Linked DNA regions of Homo sapiens: region 1 is linked to region 2. The links come from fine-mapping of genetic effects on gene expression. A gene starts in region 2. The other region holds a variant in brackets. All regions are shown on one strand. Distances are between the middles of the regions.

Region 1 (8,333 bases), 63 kb before region 2:
CTGTAACTCTTCTCCCACAGTCTCCAAGTCTCTAAGTCCACCTCTTTGTCTCTGAGATGCATTCTGGATGATTTCTTCAGATGTGTCTTCTAGCCCACAAATTTCTCTTCAGTAGAATGTAATCTTCTTTTAACTCATCCACTGTTTTTCGGTTATGGTATTTTAGCTTTTAATTCTCTTGGTTATTTTCCTAGAGTTTTGCTCTTTGCCTATATTTTTAGTCTTTTTTAAATTTCTTTAACCAATAAACATAGCTTCTTTGTGAGTTTGATTGCTGTGATCTGTTAAGTTCTTGGGAATCATATTCTGTTTTTCCTGCTGGCTCCCATGGTGCCTCGTTTTCTTGTGTATTTTCTAAGTTTGACTCTAAGCTCATGTCTTGAGTTCTTGATAGAGTTGGTTTCTTTATAGAGAATTGCTTTTGCTTCTTTCAAGTCCCCGAGGGCAGTGTCAGTTTGAAACGACTTTAGATTCCTGTCTTGAAGTTTTCGGATTACACAAACTCTTTTTTTTTTTTTTTAAGACGAAGTCTCAGTCTCTTGCCCAGGCTGGAGTGCAGTGGCGTGATCCTGGCTCACTGCAGCCTCCGTCTCCAGGGTTCAAGTGATTCTTCTGCCTCAGCTTCCTGAGTAGCTTGGATTACAGGTGTGCACCAACATGCCCAGCTAATTTTTGTATTTTTAGTAGAGATGGGATTTCACCATGTTGGCCAGGCTGGTCTCGAACTCCTGACTTCAAGTTACCCCCCTGCCTCAGCCTCCCAAAGTGCTGGGAGACGTGAGCCACCGTGCCCTGCAAACCTTTTATTTATTTATTTATTTATTTATTTATTTATTTATTTATTTATTTATTTATTTTGAGAGAGAGTTTTGCCCTTGTTGCCCAAGCTGGAGTGCAGTGGCATGATCTCAGCTCACTGCAACCTTCGCCTCCCAGGTTCAGGTGATTCTCCTGCCTCAGTCTCCCGAATAGCTGGGATTACAGGCATGTGTTACCTCACCCGGCTTGGATTACCCAAACTCTTAAAGCATTTTTTATTTTTCAACAAGAGACTCTACCTGGGTATTTAACCTTCCTTACAGTGAGGAAAGAAAGCCATTTGGTTATTTACATGCCAGTTACTCACTCTTCTGAAGCCTTTCCACATATTCTTTATTGTGTATAGTTTTTAAACTTGGTTATTGTATACCAATGTGTATATAATATACATAAAGAAAAATGAACAAAATAAAGATGCACAGCTCAATAATTTATCACAAACCAAACATTTATGGAACCACAACCCAGAAATCTTCAAGAAATAGAATGTTGCTATCCTCTTTAAACACTACATAAAGATTTTGTATAGTCTTCTTTTGCATCTGACTTCTTTTCACTCAGCATTATGTTTGTGAGGTTTATTCACGTTGGGTAGAGCCACAGTTTATGTATTTTCCATTGCTAAGTGGTATTCCATTTATATCACTTAGCAATGAAATTTCCCATCTACTTTTGATAGGCATTTGAGTTCTGACTGTCACAAATAATGTAGCTGTGAACATTCTCCTGCTTGTCTCCTGAACTCTACTTGCCCCACACCCTGGCATCCACCTTCCTATTGGCTATGTTTGTGTCTTCAACAGAATTGTTTGTTGGAGATTTTTTTCCCCTCCTAAGCTTTTAAAATACTTTCTTTTTGGGTTTCCAAGTGGTGTGATAATAACTACATTTTTTTAAATTACTAAGCTTTATTTTTTAGAGCAGTTTTAGGTTTACAGGAAAATTGAGCAGCAATGACTACATTTTTACAATGAAAACTTTCTTGTAGGCTTCTACTCATCTAAAAAGCAACTTATATGTGTGAATTGCTTTAACAACTCTTCGACAATACTGAGTTATGTTATTTTTTGTAGTTAACTAGGGTAGGCATGAAGTAGCATAAGTGACATTTCTTTGCTAATTGGCTGTGTTTTTCAAATATTTGTTTACTAATTGTATTTCCCTTGCGTGTGAATTGTTTACTTCTCTCTTCTCTTTGAATTCCTAATGTTTCCTGGTTATGAAATGTAATACAGGTTTGTTCATTACAGAAAATGTAAATGATAGAGAAAAGTATAAACTTAGCTCATTTATAGAACAATGATTTGAATACCAGATACCATGTTTTAGTATTTTTTAACAATTTAACCTCATAGAAATTGAGTATATTCAATGTTTTTGTCTCCTTCTGCAAATGAAGAGGGATGTTTAAATATATCTTCAAGATTGTCTAGAAAAATCACTAAAATGTAATCAAATTGACACCTTCTCTTACAGTTCTGTTCTCCTACTTCCTGAGTCTCACACGTGTAATTATTTTTAGGGTCTTGCTGTCCCTCTGTGCTTTTTGTGTCACTCAGAAACATTGATCTTTAAACACATAAAAATTCTCATGAAATCTAAAAAGCAAGGGAATGTACGGTCACTGTATTCCATCTTTTCAAGCCAATCTTGTTTTCCTGACACTGCTTTCCTTTCCATTATTCTCTGGACTCCTAGGACAGTGTTAACTCCACAACTAAACTAAAATGTTAATGGAAACTGGAAATAAGGCCCAAAGCTGAGTTGAGCAGACTGGGATTTTGTTGTAGCTCAGTCTCAGTTGCTTTATGTGCGTCTTTAAATGGCCTTCAGATGGAACCATCTGGCCATTTTAAGCAGGAAGGGCCTATTCATTAGAGAACCACGTGGCAGGTAATCTACTCTGGCTGGTTAACTTAGATCTTTCACTCACACGTGGTCAACTTCAGTTGGATGAAGGCAGCAACAACTATCTAAGGGTTGAAAGATTGGAGTACGGCTGGGCGCGGTGGCTCACGCCTGTAATCCCTGCACTTTGGGAGGCCGAGACGGGTGGATCACAAGGTCAGGAGATCAAGACCATCCTGGTTGACACGGTGAAACCCCGTCTCTACTAAAAATAGAACAAAATTAGCCGGGCGTGGTGGCGGGTGCCTGTAGTGCCTGCTACTCGGGAGGCTGAGGCGGGAGAATGGCATGAACCCAGGAAGTGGAGCTTGTAGCTTGCAGGAGGTGGAGCTTGTACCGCTGCACTCCAGCCTGGGCAACAGAGCGAGACTCAGTCTCAAAAAAAAAAAAAAAAAAACTGGAGTACTAGCCTGGCTTACTTTGCAGGAGTGCCTTCTCTAGAACTGCTAGCATGTCAGATCAGCTCAAGCATGAGGTCATATGAAGACGTGGGCAGACTGAAGTCCGACAGGCTTCCCCACTGCTTTTGCCCCAGGGTGCAGATATTAGAACAGAGGCTACCACTTGTTTCTGTAGAAGAAAAACTTTGTCCTTCATTTCCTGTGCCTCCAAATGTCACTTAACCTCCAGAAGAGTTCTGTTGGTAAGCATAATGAAGGGATTAAACTAGAAATGAATTTTGACAGTTTATAGTGAGAGCTTCTGATTTCTGCCATGTGGAACTTCATGTCTGTAGCATTTCAGTATTTGAAGTTCTTAATATTGTTGCAAATATAAAATGAATTGGGGAGAGATGAACCTCTCAAACATGTTTTGTTTTTTCAAGAAATCATATCTACTGTTCCATCTGTATTTCATGTAGAGGTGTACTTATGTATCATTTACTTGAGAAAACACATAAAAACAGACCATTTTAAAGCTAGTCCGTGTCTGGTTTGTCGCCACATCAAATATGCACATGTAATGAGTTGTCTGGAACTCAGGCCTTTCCCTACAGACGCGATTTTTGCTGGTGGCTAATTCTCAGGTCAGCCTTCAAAGGTTTGCATAACCTCATTGCACACCAGTGAATTCTAGGACGGAGAATTACCACTGATGACAATGGTTTTAAAGGAAAATGTACTCTGAATTCTTGTCGCCCTCTGTAATAGGAGGAGTTTGCTGCTTTTTTTCCTCTCTTTGGGCCTCTGGCGTTGTCTTCTGTGGACTGGGCAGGCTGTGGTGGTAGGGAAGGGGGGAGCTTAGAGATGAAGAGTATGTGGGACTCCTGAAGTAACGGCAAAGGGAAATGCATTGAGATGTCAAGATGAGGGAGAAGGCTTTGACATGGGTCCCCAGCGGGGGCTGTAGAATCAACGAACCTCTCCAAACCGGTCCCCAAACACTGGCACCTGGATGAGAAAAGGAGCAGAGCTGAGCACTTTTTCTCTGCCCTCTTTCTGCCAGACCTCCTGTTCTACTATTACAGGCCTTACTATTGACATCTGGCAAAAGAGAACCAGTAGAAAGGGAAGTGTGTGAGAACTGCAGGTATAGCACCTAGGAGGTCATCTTAGAAATCTACTGGAGCAAGAGAAAGAACAGAGAAAAGGGGAAGTCCCCATTACCCTCCGAGCAAAGAAGCTTCCTTGCTACTGAATGTGGCTAGAGCTGTACCCCACCCACTCTGTCTGCACTACTGTGCAGTCGTTCCAAGGTGGTTGTCTGATTTGACTGTGAAGAGCCTGGATAGTTAACAT[C/G]TGTTGGGTCTGGGTGGTGATACATCAGTGTGTGTTATCTCACTCTATATAGCCTTACTTTGGAAGTATTTCATGCTGATAATAGACAAAGCTAGTGGGTTTGGTGTGAAGAGAGTCTGTTCATAGGAAAACATGATCTGTTCATCAGTCTAGCTTAGCAGCTAGCTAAATAAATGAAGTGTAACTCAATGGCTCATAGAGCTTTATATTACCATAGAGATTTATGTTACCACAGGGGTATAAAAAGTATTAATGAATTAACAGAAGGTCTTTTATATTTCATTTATTTATTACATCTCTTAGCAGACTGTTTTTACTGTAAATGTGAACACACAGTTTTCCACTTCTTTCTTGTTCATAGTTTTCTTGACAAAGAGTAGCTACTTTTCTTTCAAATTTTCCAATTTTGTAGTTTAACCAATAATAGTTTCAGTGACTTCAATACATTAACACCCAATTGATACATAAACTTCAGAGGAGTTTGCCTTAATCAGTATGTTCATTGCTTTTTAAATTTTTTATCTTTCACAAAGATAGAAATTCAGTGCAGTTGTTTGTTTATTTGTTTAGTTTTTCTGGGCTACAAACATCTTAATTTCTTGATAGGCCAGTTGTAACGTGTGACTAAGGACTATATTCTTCAGACATTGCATTTGAAGCAATGGGCAGGTGTGGGATTTGGAAGCAGTATGAAAGTAACATCATTTGTTTCTGCAGACTTTGTAATTTTCTTCTGGAAAACCCAGATTATCCAAAGAGAGAAGACAGAATCATTATAAATCCCAGTAGCAGTCTGCTGGCCAGCCAAGATGAGACAAAGGCAAGTGTCATGTTCATGTTTTGCAGTCACTGCCTGGAAATGCTGTGCTTTGTTGTTGTTGTTGTTGTTGTTGTTGTTATCTCTGTGGGAAGAAGGTGCTTTGTTGGGACAAGTTTTTAAAGACTAGCCGAGGGACATAGGATTTCAGAATATATCTATACTTCAGTGCGATCTCCCAGTCTGAGCCACTTTGAATTCTGTCTTTAACTTCTATCTTTCCTTGTAATTCTTATCTTCCTTTTCCCACAAAGAATTGAACGAATCCTCCATATCTGTAATCCTACAAAGCAAATTCCTAAAGCAAAACAAGAATTGGCCAAAACTCTTAACATTTTATTATGAAAATTTTCAAACCTACAGAAAAATTGAAATATTTTACGTTGATCACCTGTATACCTACCACTGGTACTACTAAAAAGTTAACAGTTTACTGTATCCTCTTTATCATACATATGTCCTCTGTCTGTCCATCAGCACATCTTTGTTATGTTTCATTTCATGATAATGCATTTCAAAGTAAATTGCAAAAACATCAGTACACTTCCCTGTAAGTACTTCAGCATGCAGATCATTACCCAGAGTGGAATATCTTTTTTCTTTTGATGTGAGATTTGTATACAGCGTATCCTATACATCTGTTTAACCAGATCTCATATCAAGATGTAAACAGTTTGGTTTTTAAAAACTTTAATCATTGTCATTATTTGTGATCTAAACTGGCATTTAGTTTGTTACATGGTAAAGTATGGTTGAGAACTAACTTTATTAAGATGTGTTGCTTGATCTTCCAACTCCCCATAGATTCTTTGACTATCTCTCTTACGTATTCTATAATAGAAAAAAAATAGTTGTTTGTAAATATGGTATGGAAAGAAGATGGCTGTAAGATTGGTTTAAATCCCCAACTATACTTCTTTACTAGTTATAACTAGTAAAACTAGTCTGCCGGCTCCAGACAGGTTTGTTTAACCTCTCTGAGCCACCATTTTCTCATCTCTCTTATAGGGCTGGTAACTTCCTTATAGAGTAATTAGAACAAATGTTATTCTTTTCTGCACATAAATTCTTAAAATGATTTCCCCTACATGGGAAATGTACTGCCTGGCCTTTGATTTTATGCTTCTGTCTCGTTTCAGTTGCCTAAAATAAGACTTTTTTGACTATTCTAAATTGACTCCTCTTGACCAGCACTGCTTCATCCAAGCTGCTGACCTCCTCATGGCCGACTTCAAAGTGCTCAGTAGTCAGGACATCATGTGGGCCCTGCACGAGCTCAAAGGACACTATGCAATCACCCGAAAGGTACTCTACTTGGTCTTCCTGTTGGGGTCACACCTCTTGACTACATCTTCACACGGTAACAGAATGAACAGCTTGTGGAAATTGGGATGGTTTATGATTGCTAAGGAATTTATGAGGGTGAAGATAAATAGATGGGTATTTGCTGATCGTGAAGGGCTAAATGAAAAGAAATAATAGATAGATGAGAAGTAGAGAAGTTCTGCTTTGACCGTAAAAACATGGAGGGTAATACATTCTACTGTGGAATGCAGGAGTATGAGAGATGCGTTCTAATCCTGCTCCTTCCTGATTTGCTTTCCGACTTGGGACAGGTCACACAACCATCCATCCCCCAGGTGGCTCAGTTATCAGTGATAGGACGTAAGGTCTGTAGAGAGTCCGGGAACACAGCAGTGCCCCCTCAGAAGAGAATGGGCAGCTACTGACAGCTCCCAGCGTTCTCCCCCCAGGATCCTAAAATAGATGGCACTTAAAGGCCTTGGTTGAGGGTGAGGAGGGTGCTGGTTTGTGGTGGGTAACACAGGCGTCTTCCATGAAGGACAGCACACGGTGCATGCTTTGTAGCTGTGGCCAGAACAGGAGCGCACGCACCAGCAGAGACCTTGGCTTACTCCTCTTGGTCGCTCTTACTGCCATTAAATTCTATTCTACTGAAATTCTTGTGATTCTCAGCAACACAGTGATGTTTCTTTTGTCCAAAGGACAAACGTGGAGTTATCGTAGTGGTTAAAATACTCATTGGGTCTTACCTGTAGGAAGGGAAGAACCAAGCCAAGGACTGTGGCTTATGCTGAGGTCTAGGCCAAGCCCCTTCCACCTTTTTTTTTTTTTTTTTTGAAATGGAGTCTCGCTCTGTCGCCCAGGCTGGAGTGCAATGGCGTGATCTCAGCTCACTGCAGCCTCTGCCTCCCCAGTTCAAGCGATTCTCCTGCCTCAGCCTCCTGAGTAGCTGGGACTATAGATGCTCACCACCACGCCTGGCTGATTTTTGTATTTTTAGTAAAGATGGGGTTTCACCATGTTGGCCAGGCTGGTCAGCAACTCCTGACCTCAGATGATCTGCCTGCCTCAGCGTCCCAAAGTGCTGGGATAACCTCGTGAGCCACTGCACCCGGCCAAAAAAAGACTGAAAGAAAAATAGGCTTTGAAAGGGTAAAACAGGAGGCAACCTAAGGTAGACCAAGGGTCTCCACAAGGGCCTCCCTGAGCAAGGGACATTTAATCACAGACCCACATAGGAGTTTGGTGAAAGGGGTCGTGGAAGATGTTAGTATCATTTATTGGGGTGAGAACTAGTATAAACATCTGCTTTGGAGAGAAATAATCATGAAATCAGTCTGGGAAACGTTGGTTGCCAATGTGCTGAGAAGGGCCTGTGAGACATCTGAGTAAAAATAATTCATTGGGAGGTTGAATGGACTAGAAAGTTTGGAAAATACAGACTGTAGATAGGATTTTTTTTTTAAATCTCCTTGGGTTTTATGGTGATAGGACTTTGAGAGTCATCAGCATATGGAAAATCTCACCAGCCAGGATGAGGTACCCAGAGATACCAGGTGAGAAGAGAGGACTCCTGACATGTAAAGACCAAGCGGAGGAGGCAGGCAGACAGGAAGGAGGAAGTTGAGAGACTGGAGCGTCCGTATTATCATCATCATCATCATCATGGTTATTCTTGTTTAGAAACAGGGTCTCTCTCTGTCACCCAGGCTGGAGTACAGTGGCCCAATCATGGCTTATTGCAA
Region 2 (8,333 bases):
AATCTCACTCTCACCCAGGCTGGAGTGCAGTGGTGTGATCTCGGCTCACTGCAACCTCTACTTCCTGGGTTCAAGCAATTCCCCCGTCTCAACCTCCTGAGTAGCTGAGACTACAGCGCCTGCCACCACGCCTGGCTAATTTTTGTATTTTTAGTAGAGACGGAGTTTCACCTTGTTGGTCTGGCTCGTCTTGAACTCCTGACCTCAGGTGATCCACCCACCTCAGGCTCCCAAAGTGCTGGGATTACCCGCCTGATCCACCACGCCCAGCCACAACCCAGGAATTTTTTTCTTAAGAGCCTGAGAGTCTTGTCTTTGAAATGTAAACCTCGAGGAAGATAGTGTCCCTATCTTCCTGTTGCCTAGGGAGTTTAGCCTAGGCACCTTGAGCTGTTACTACCTGCTTGTCAAGGAGATATGAGAAGTTTTGTTTTTTCACCGGATACAGGTAATTAACTAGCATGGGTGGCCACCTTGATTTCCAGGTGAATTTAGGATGAGTGTTTAAGAATGCATAGCAGGCCAGGTGCGGTGGCTCACACCTGTAATCCCAGCACTCTGGGGGAGGCCGAGATGGGCGGATCACTTGAAGCCACACAGAAATCAAAAGAAGGAGTTTGAGTCCAGCCTGGCCAATATGGCGAAACTCTGTCTCTACTAAAATACAAATATTAGCTGGGCATGATGGCACATGTCTGTAATTCCAGCTACTCGGGAGGCTTAAGTATGAGAATCACTTGAACCCAGGAGGTGGGGGTTACAGTGAGCCAAGATCACACCACTACACTCCAGCCTGGATGACAGAATGAGACCCTGTCTCAAAAAAAAAAAAAAAACATAGCAAGTCCTTTTACATGAGGATGAGTTACCGTTTATCTTGAGAGCGTGTATGCAGTGGATCATGTCTGCCAGGCTATGTAAAAAGGAGGCTTTGGCTGGGCGCCATGGCTCACGCCTATAATTCCAGCAGTTTGGGAGGCCTAGGCGGGCGAATTGAGAGGTCAGGATTTTGAGACCATACTAGCTAACATGACGAAACCCCGTCTCTACTAAAAATACAAAAAATTAGCCAGGCGTGGTGGCATGTGCCTGTAGTCCCAGTTACTTGGGAGGCTGAGGCAGCAGAATCGCTTAAACTGGGGAGGCAGAGGTTGCAGTGAGCCGAGATCATACCACTGCACTCCAGCCTGGGTGACACAGCAAGACTCTGTCTCAAAAAAAAAAAAAAGGAGGCTTTATTTCTCTTTGCATCTCATTAATGGATCACCTGCGATGGGCATCACAGTTTGGTTTAATGTTTATTCAATAATAAAATTGTTTTCTTTATTTTCTGAATTTGTGGAGAGAATATTCTAGGTTAACAGAAGAATTTATTTATTTATCTATTTATTTATTTAGAGGTGGAGTCTTGCTCTGTCGCCAGGCTGCAGTGTAGTGGCGTGATCTCGGCTCACTGCAATCTCCGCCTCCCAGTTCAAGTGATTGCCCTGCCTCAGCCTCCCAAGTAGCTGGGACTACAGGCGCGCACCACCACACCCAGCTAATTTTTTGTGTTTTAGTCGAGACAGGGTTTCACCATGTTGGCCAGGATGGTCTTGGTCTCCTGACCTCATGATCCACCTGCCTCAGCCTCCCAAAGTGCTGGGATTACAGGCATGAGCCACGGTTCCTGGCATCAGAAGAATTTATTTTTAGTCTTTTCCTTACCAGTTTTTATGAAACAACTGGGCAAGAACACTAAGAACACTGTTAGAGTTCACCAAAAAATTGTGATGAATCATTGTCCTTATGATCCCATTTTTGAAAACTGACATTTTAATTGTAAAGCAAAAATAAAATTCTAAGCCCCCACAACTGACTGAATGGACTCCCCTGTCGGCCAGCAAGATCCAAAATAAACATGAAAAACTAATTCAGGTCATGATGGGAAGGAGGGGGTCGGACATGCCTTGTCATACTCTCCTCCCTTCAGAGTTTAGGCACAGCTGACCAACATTAACACTAGAATACAGATCATAAGACTGACAGAACAGGCTCTTTGTATCAGTAAGATACCCAACTCCATCCAGACTCTGATATAGCATCACATGACAGATAGCAGTCCCTGAAGGAAATCATAGTATTTTATCCCATAATATATTTTCTTTGACACACTTTAAAATAGTCCTGCAAAGCCATCTCTTTGGGGGAAATTTGCATTCTGTAGAGAATCTCCTTCCCTTACAGAAAAGAAGTCTTTTCTGGAGATTCTGACACCTTTTAAGATCCAATAAGAGATATTTATCATCTATTCTCTCTGAAGCCTGTTCTGAGGCTTCATCTACATAACAAGAACCTTGGTTTCCACAATGCCCCTTATCTTAACTCAAGCTTTTCTTTTCTTTCCCTCCCTCTTTCTTTTCCTTCCTTCCCTCCTTCCTCTCTCTCTTTTCCTCCCTCTCTTTCTCTCTTTCTTTTCTTCTCTGTTGCCCAAGCTGGAGTGCAGTGGCACCATCATGGCTCACTGTAGCCTCAACTTCCCAGGCTCAAGCAATCCTCCCATCTCAGCCTCCTGAGTAGCTGGGACTACAGGCATGCACCACCACACCTGGATAATTTTTTTTTTTGTAGAGGTGGGGGTCTCGCTGTGTTGCCCAGGCTGTCCTTCAACTCCTGGCCTCAAGGGATCCTCCCAGCTCACCCTCCCAAAATGCTGGGATCACAGGCATGAGCCACCGCAATGGCCCATTTCTTCATGTCGTTTTCCAACTGTTCAGCCAACGCTTAACTCTGAACCAACTGCCAATCTTTGAATCTGCTAGTGACCTGAAAGCCTTTCCAGGCTGACCCAATGTGTACCTCTCATGTATTGATTTATGTCTTTGCCTGTAACTGCTGTCTCCCTAAGATGTATAAAACCAAGCTGTAACCCAACCACTTTGGGCTCACGTTCTCAGGACCCCCTGAGGCTGTGTCACCAGCCATGGTCACTCAAGTAGGAGGCCCAGAATAAAACTCTTGACAGACTTTGAGTCTTTTTGGTCAACATAACCTAACCCTAAACATAATCCTCCTGGGGAAGGTGAGATCACAGGTATCTCTTTTCTTCGTTCGATCTGTGTATTTCCTGATTTCTCTACAGTTTTTAGGCATTCGCTGTGTGATCTAGAAAAGCTACAGAGTCTCGCTCCGTCGCCAGGCTGGAGTCCAGGGGCGCGATCTCGGCTCACTGCAACCTCCACCTCCCGAGTTCAAACTATTCTCCTGCCTCAGCCCCCGAGTAGCTGGGATTACAGGCACACGCCACTACTCCCAGCTAATTTTTGTATTTTTGGTAGAGAAGGGATTTCACCATGTTGGCCAGGATGGTCTCTATCTCTTGACCTCGCGATCCGCCCGCCTCGGCCTCCCAAAGTGCTGGGATTTATAGGCGTGAGCCACCGCGCCCAGCCACAAATTCTATTTTCTTTCTCTTCCTTGGAAAGCATCGCTGGGCATTTATCCTGTCCTAGTATTTGAGTGAAACTTCTCTTAGCATTTCAGCGCAGTGACCACGATACACCCTTTCCTTTCCTTCTCTTTATGGGAAACTCGGTTCTAACCCAGAGGCCTTGGGCTCCAGGACCCAGTCAGGCAGCCCTGGACTTGACCCTAAAAGGGAGTAAAGACAAATGCGAAGTTCAATCAGGGGTTCAGAGCTCCCAAAGCTCATAGCCTGGAGCTTCTTAACCTTTAGGCAGGGTAGAGACATTTAAAACGGCCCCTAAACTTGGGGGGCGCGTAGGCTCATGGGAAATAGAGTAGGGTGCTTGTCCTGGGACCAGCTGTGGGCCCCGGAGGCTGACTTCCGGTGCACTCCTGCGCGTGTGCACCTCTCTCTGTGTGCGTGTTCGCGCATGCGCGCCGCCGCTGCACTGCCCTCGCTTCCTGTGCGTCCTCAGGTCACCGCTTGCTCTAGTTCCCAGGCTTTGGCCTCCAGTGGACGAGAATCGCGGAGCCTGCGGGGCTGGAGGTTGAGCGCCCGGGCCAGCACCTAGGCGGGCGCGGGGGTGTGCAGGCCAGGGTTCGCGCGGGCCGGGTGGAGGCTTGAGCGGGGACCCCCGAGCTTGAGCCCCGGAGCCGGCGGCGCTGGGGCCAGAGGGGCCGGACGGGAGGTGGCGGAGGTGGCGGCGGAGGCGAAGGGGCGGCGGGACGCGGGCCTGGCCCGTGTGTGTCCTGGCGGCCTGGCCCAGGCTGCCGCTGTACGGTGAGCCCGAGGGAGGCGGATCTGGGTCCCGGGAAGGACACCCGCCTGGATTTGCCCCTTAGGCCCGGCCCGGGCCCCTCGGGAGCAGAACAACCTTAGTGAGGTGGACAGGAGGGGACCTCGCGAGCAGACGCGCGCCAGCGACAGCAGCCCCGCCCCGGCCTCTCGGGAGCCGTGGGGCAGAGGCTGCGGAGCCCCAGAAGGGTAGGTCTTGGGTTTTCGGGCCCGGAGCGAGAAGGGCCTGAGTGAAGTCACCGTGTGTTGGGGACCTTAGAGTGTGGGGCAGGGGGAGGGTCTCGATCGCTTGCAGGAGAGACGTGTGTTTGGGTTTGAGGGCAGGGTCCGGCTGCACCGAACAGGCGCTGCATGGGAAATCTGGGAGGACGAGGCTTATGGGGGCCTGGAGGGTGTCACCAGCCTCAGCTGCGGACGTCGTCTCCACTCCCCGCTAACCCCTAACAGCCCTTCCTCCTCCTTTCCGTGCTCCAGATTTCGACCTCCTCTAAACGTCCGTCAGCGCCTCTGTTCTCTCATTTAAGTGTCTGCTGATTCCCCCCTTAGATCTGCCCTGGAGACTGGTAGTAATGCAGGAACAGTCTGCAGGGATTCTCTCTTGCTGCCTCAGTTGCTAGGGGAAGAGACTGGGCCTTAGCAGGTGGGTGACTTGACCGGGTCACTGGCTTTGTGGGTAGAGTTGCTCATAGTAGAACTCAGGAGTCTTATCTCCCAGGCCAGTGTTCTTTCTCCCGTATCCTAGTTTTCTTAATAGAAGATTATTAGGTGCAGCAATAACCAAGTTCAGTTAGATAATTTAGAAACAAAACCATATTTTATACACATTCATTTCATTTCTGAGAGCTCACATACTCAATTCCTATGGCTTCTTTGATTTTAAGCAGTTTAAAGAGACAATAAGAAAATGCGGGCCGGATGCAGTGGCTCACACCTGTAATCCCAGCACTTTGCGGGGGCTAAGGCAAGAGTATCCCTTGAGACCAGGAGTTAGAGACCAGCCTAGGCAACATAGGGAGACCCTGACTCTACAAAAAATACAAAAGTAGCCAGGCATGCTGGGATGCACCTGTGGTCCCAGCTACTCAGGAGGCTGAGGTGGGAGGATCAATGGAGGCCAGGAGGTCGAGGCTGCAGTGAGCTGTGAATGCACCACTGCACTCCAGCCTGGGTGGCAGATTGAGACCCTGTCTCAACAAACAGACAAACCACAAAAAACATGAGCTGTATAATGGGAATTTTTTTTTTCTTTTTGCAGGTTGTATTTGATGATGGCAGACTATTTGTAAAAGGAGTCATGTTACCCATGAGAGTCTCACTCATCTGATTACTACCTGATTATCTTAGAGTTACAAAGTTACAAGTGCATGCTTCGCCTATCACTCTTTTTCACTCTCTTTTTTTTTTTTTTTTTTTTTTTTTTGAGACAGTGTCTCTCACCCAGTCTGGAGTGCAGCAGTGTGGTCTCGGCTCACTGCAACCTCCACCTCCCAGGTTCAAAGGATTCTTGTGCCTCAGCCTCCTGAGTAGCTGGGACTACAGGCATGTGACACTATGCCTGGCTAATTTTTTTGTTATTTTTAAGTAGAGATGGGGTTTCGCCATATTGGCCAAGGAAGGCGGATCACTTGAGGCCAGAATTCGAGACCAGCCTGGCCAACATGGCGAAACCCTGTATCACTCTTTTAGGCCCTTCTGAGTGTTTGCAGGCTGAGTGTTCACAGGGTGTTAGCCTATTGAGCTTTCTTTTGTGGTTCTTACGCAGGAGATTCCTGCCTTTGCAGGCCAGAGCACTCATGACTTCAGTGACCTGCTTCTCCCCCTCTAGGTCTACCAGCCACAGTCTCTGCACGTTTCCAAGAGCAGCAGAAAATGAACACATTGCAGGTGAGTTTTCATGCTTGTGTATATGTTCCTCAACTTTATTTTATGATGCATTTTAAGAGGTTTGTAAGGATTCTTACCTTTTTTTTTTTCTTTTTTTTTGAGATGGAGTCTTGCTCTGTTGCCCAGGCTGGAGTGCAGTGGCATGATCTCGCTTCACTGCAACCTCCACCTCCTGGGTTCAAGCGATTCTCCTGCCTCAGCCTCCCGAGTAGCTGGGATTACAGGCGTGCGCCACCATGCCCAACTAATTTTTTGTATTTTTAGAAGAGACAGGGTTTCACCATGTTGGCCAGGCTGGTCTCAAACTCCTGACCTCAGGTGATCCTCCTGCCTCAGCCTCCCAAAGTGCTGGGATTACAGGCATGAGCCACCGCGCCCAGCCAGGATTCATACTTTAAAATGGGAATGTGGAAATAGACATTGTCCTGTAAAATATAGTTAGTGTGGCAGATCAGCACCAAAAATGATTTGTGAAGCTTGTATGTGTGGATAGTAGATTTTAAGGCTGTTGAAATTGAGCCGCACCCAGGACTGATATTCTTGGCAGTCATCACAAAAGGAAAATGCCATCTGTATTAGTCCATTCTCACACTGCTATAGAGAAATAACCAAGACTGGGTCATTTATAAAGAAAAGAGGTTTAATTGGCTCACGCCTGCAGGCTCTATCATAGGAAGCATGGCTGGGGAGGCTTCAGGAAACTTACAGTCATGGTGGAAGGCAAAGGGAAAGCGGGTACATCTTCCATCACCAGAGCAGGAGGAAGAGGGAGGGGGAGGCGCTACACACTTTTAAACAACCACGTCTTGTGATAAGTCACTGAGTGTCAGGAGAACAGCACCAAAAGGGAAATTGCCCCCATGATCCAATCACCTCCCACCAGGCCCCACCTCCAACATTGGGGATTACAATTGAACATGAGATTTGGTTGGCGACACAAAGCGAAACCATATCACCATCCATGACATCATTTGCATTCATTATAAGGAGAAACCAACTTTGTTACTTGTGGATTTAAAAGATTTTCTAGGACTTGGAAAAATTTCTTCATTCAAGTTGATATAATTGCGGATAGCTTTCCTAATAACAACCATTAAGTTACCATAACTTATGGCTTATTCTTGGTGCTTATGTAAGCAGAGGGCCTGCCTGCTGCCCAAGGAGAACTTGGTGCATATAATTTTTCCAGGGAAGGAAACATTGTGATCCCAGTAGACAGAATTCTGTTTTTACTGTTGAGTCCTAGATCATGGGGGGAATGAATGACATGATCATCCTTCAAATATTTGTTCGTCTTTCAGTTTGGGTTGCACAGCAAACAATACAGTTACTCTCTTGTGAAGATTTCCTCATTTCTGTTTCTCATTTCAGTTCTCAGTGTTTTAGTTTTGTCCTTTTCACGTTGCTGAGTCAGTCTGTAAAGATTACCAGTGATTTCATTGCAGTCAAATCCAGAGGGGATTTCCTAGCCCCTACCTCCCAGGACCCTTTGTCTGCCTTTGACATCTGTTACTTCCAAACTGATACTTTCTCCATGGAGTCTCTCTTTTCTTGGCTTTTAAAAAGATTCGTCTGTAAGTATTTCTGCTTGTCTTTAAATGATGAAGTCTGTTTTGTTTTGTTTTGTTCTGTTTCTTTTTTTCTTTTTTTGAGATAGGGTCTTGCTGTGTCACCCAGGCTGGAGTGTAGAGACGTGATCACAACTCACTGCAACCTCAGTCTCCTGGGCTCACACGATCCTCCTGCCTCAGCCTCCTGCATAGCTACAGGCGCAAGCTGCCACACCCGACTAATTTTTTTATATTTTAGTAGAGACTGGGTTTCACCATGTCACCCAGGCTGGTCTTGAACTCCTGAGCTCAGGCAGTCTGCCCGCCTCGGCCTCCCAAAATGCTAGGATTACAGGCGTGAGCCACTGCTCCCAGCCTAGAGATGTATTCCCACTGTATTGCTCAGACTGGTCTCAAACTCCTGACCTCAAGCAATCCTTTCACTTTGGCCTCCCAAAGTGCTAGGATTACAGGTGTAAGCCACCACACCTGGCTAATAAGGAATCTTTTTGAAAGGGGCTAGGAATAACCCATAATACTCTCTTAATACATGTGGCAATTGGGTTAAATCTTTTAATAGTTCCTATATTATGTCTCTTGCGTGCTCATTGTTTTGAAGAAACTGGGTTGGTTATCCTCAGTTTGGATTGTGTTACCCT

What was found. PIP is the estimated chance that this variant, and not a neighbour inherited with it, causes the effect.
Region 1: its variant is fine-mapped to the expression of RBAK in monocytes after LPS (Quach 2016, PIP 0.95).

What each region holds. Positions count from the first base shown.
Region 1 is chr7:4,978,488-4,986,820 of GRCh38, forward strand. It overlaps the pseudogene RNF216P1. Among named protein-coding and RNA genes, the nearest start is that of MMD2, 23 kb to the left of the region's middle. The variant C/G (reference allele first, on the strand shown) is at 4,467.
Region 2 is chr7:5,041,968-5,050,300 of GRCh38, forward strand. It overlaps RBAK (RB associated KRAB zinc finger), which reads left to right and starts at 3,893. Exons shown (of 5, transcript NM_021163.4): 1 at 3,893-4,429; 2 at 6,066-6,124. The coding sequence starts at 6,110. RBAK-RBAKDN (RBAK-RBAKDN readthrough) reads left to right here and starts at 3,893. Exons shown (of 6, transcript NM_001204513.3): 1 at 3,893-3,991; 2 at 6,066-6,124. The coding sequence starts at 6,110. RefSeq lists a silencer at 4,033-4,242 and an enhancer at 4,393-4,502.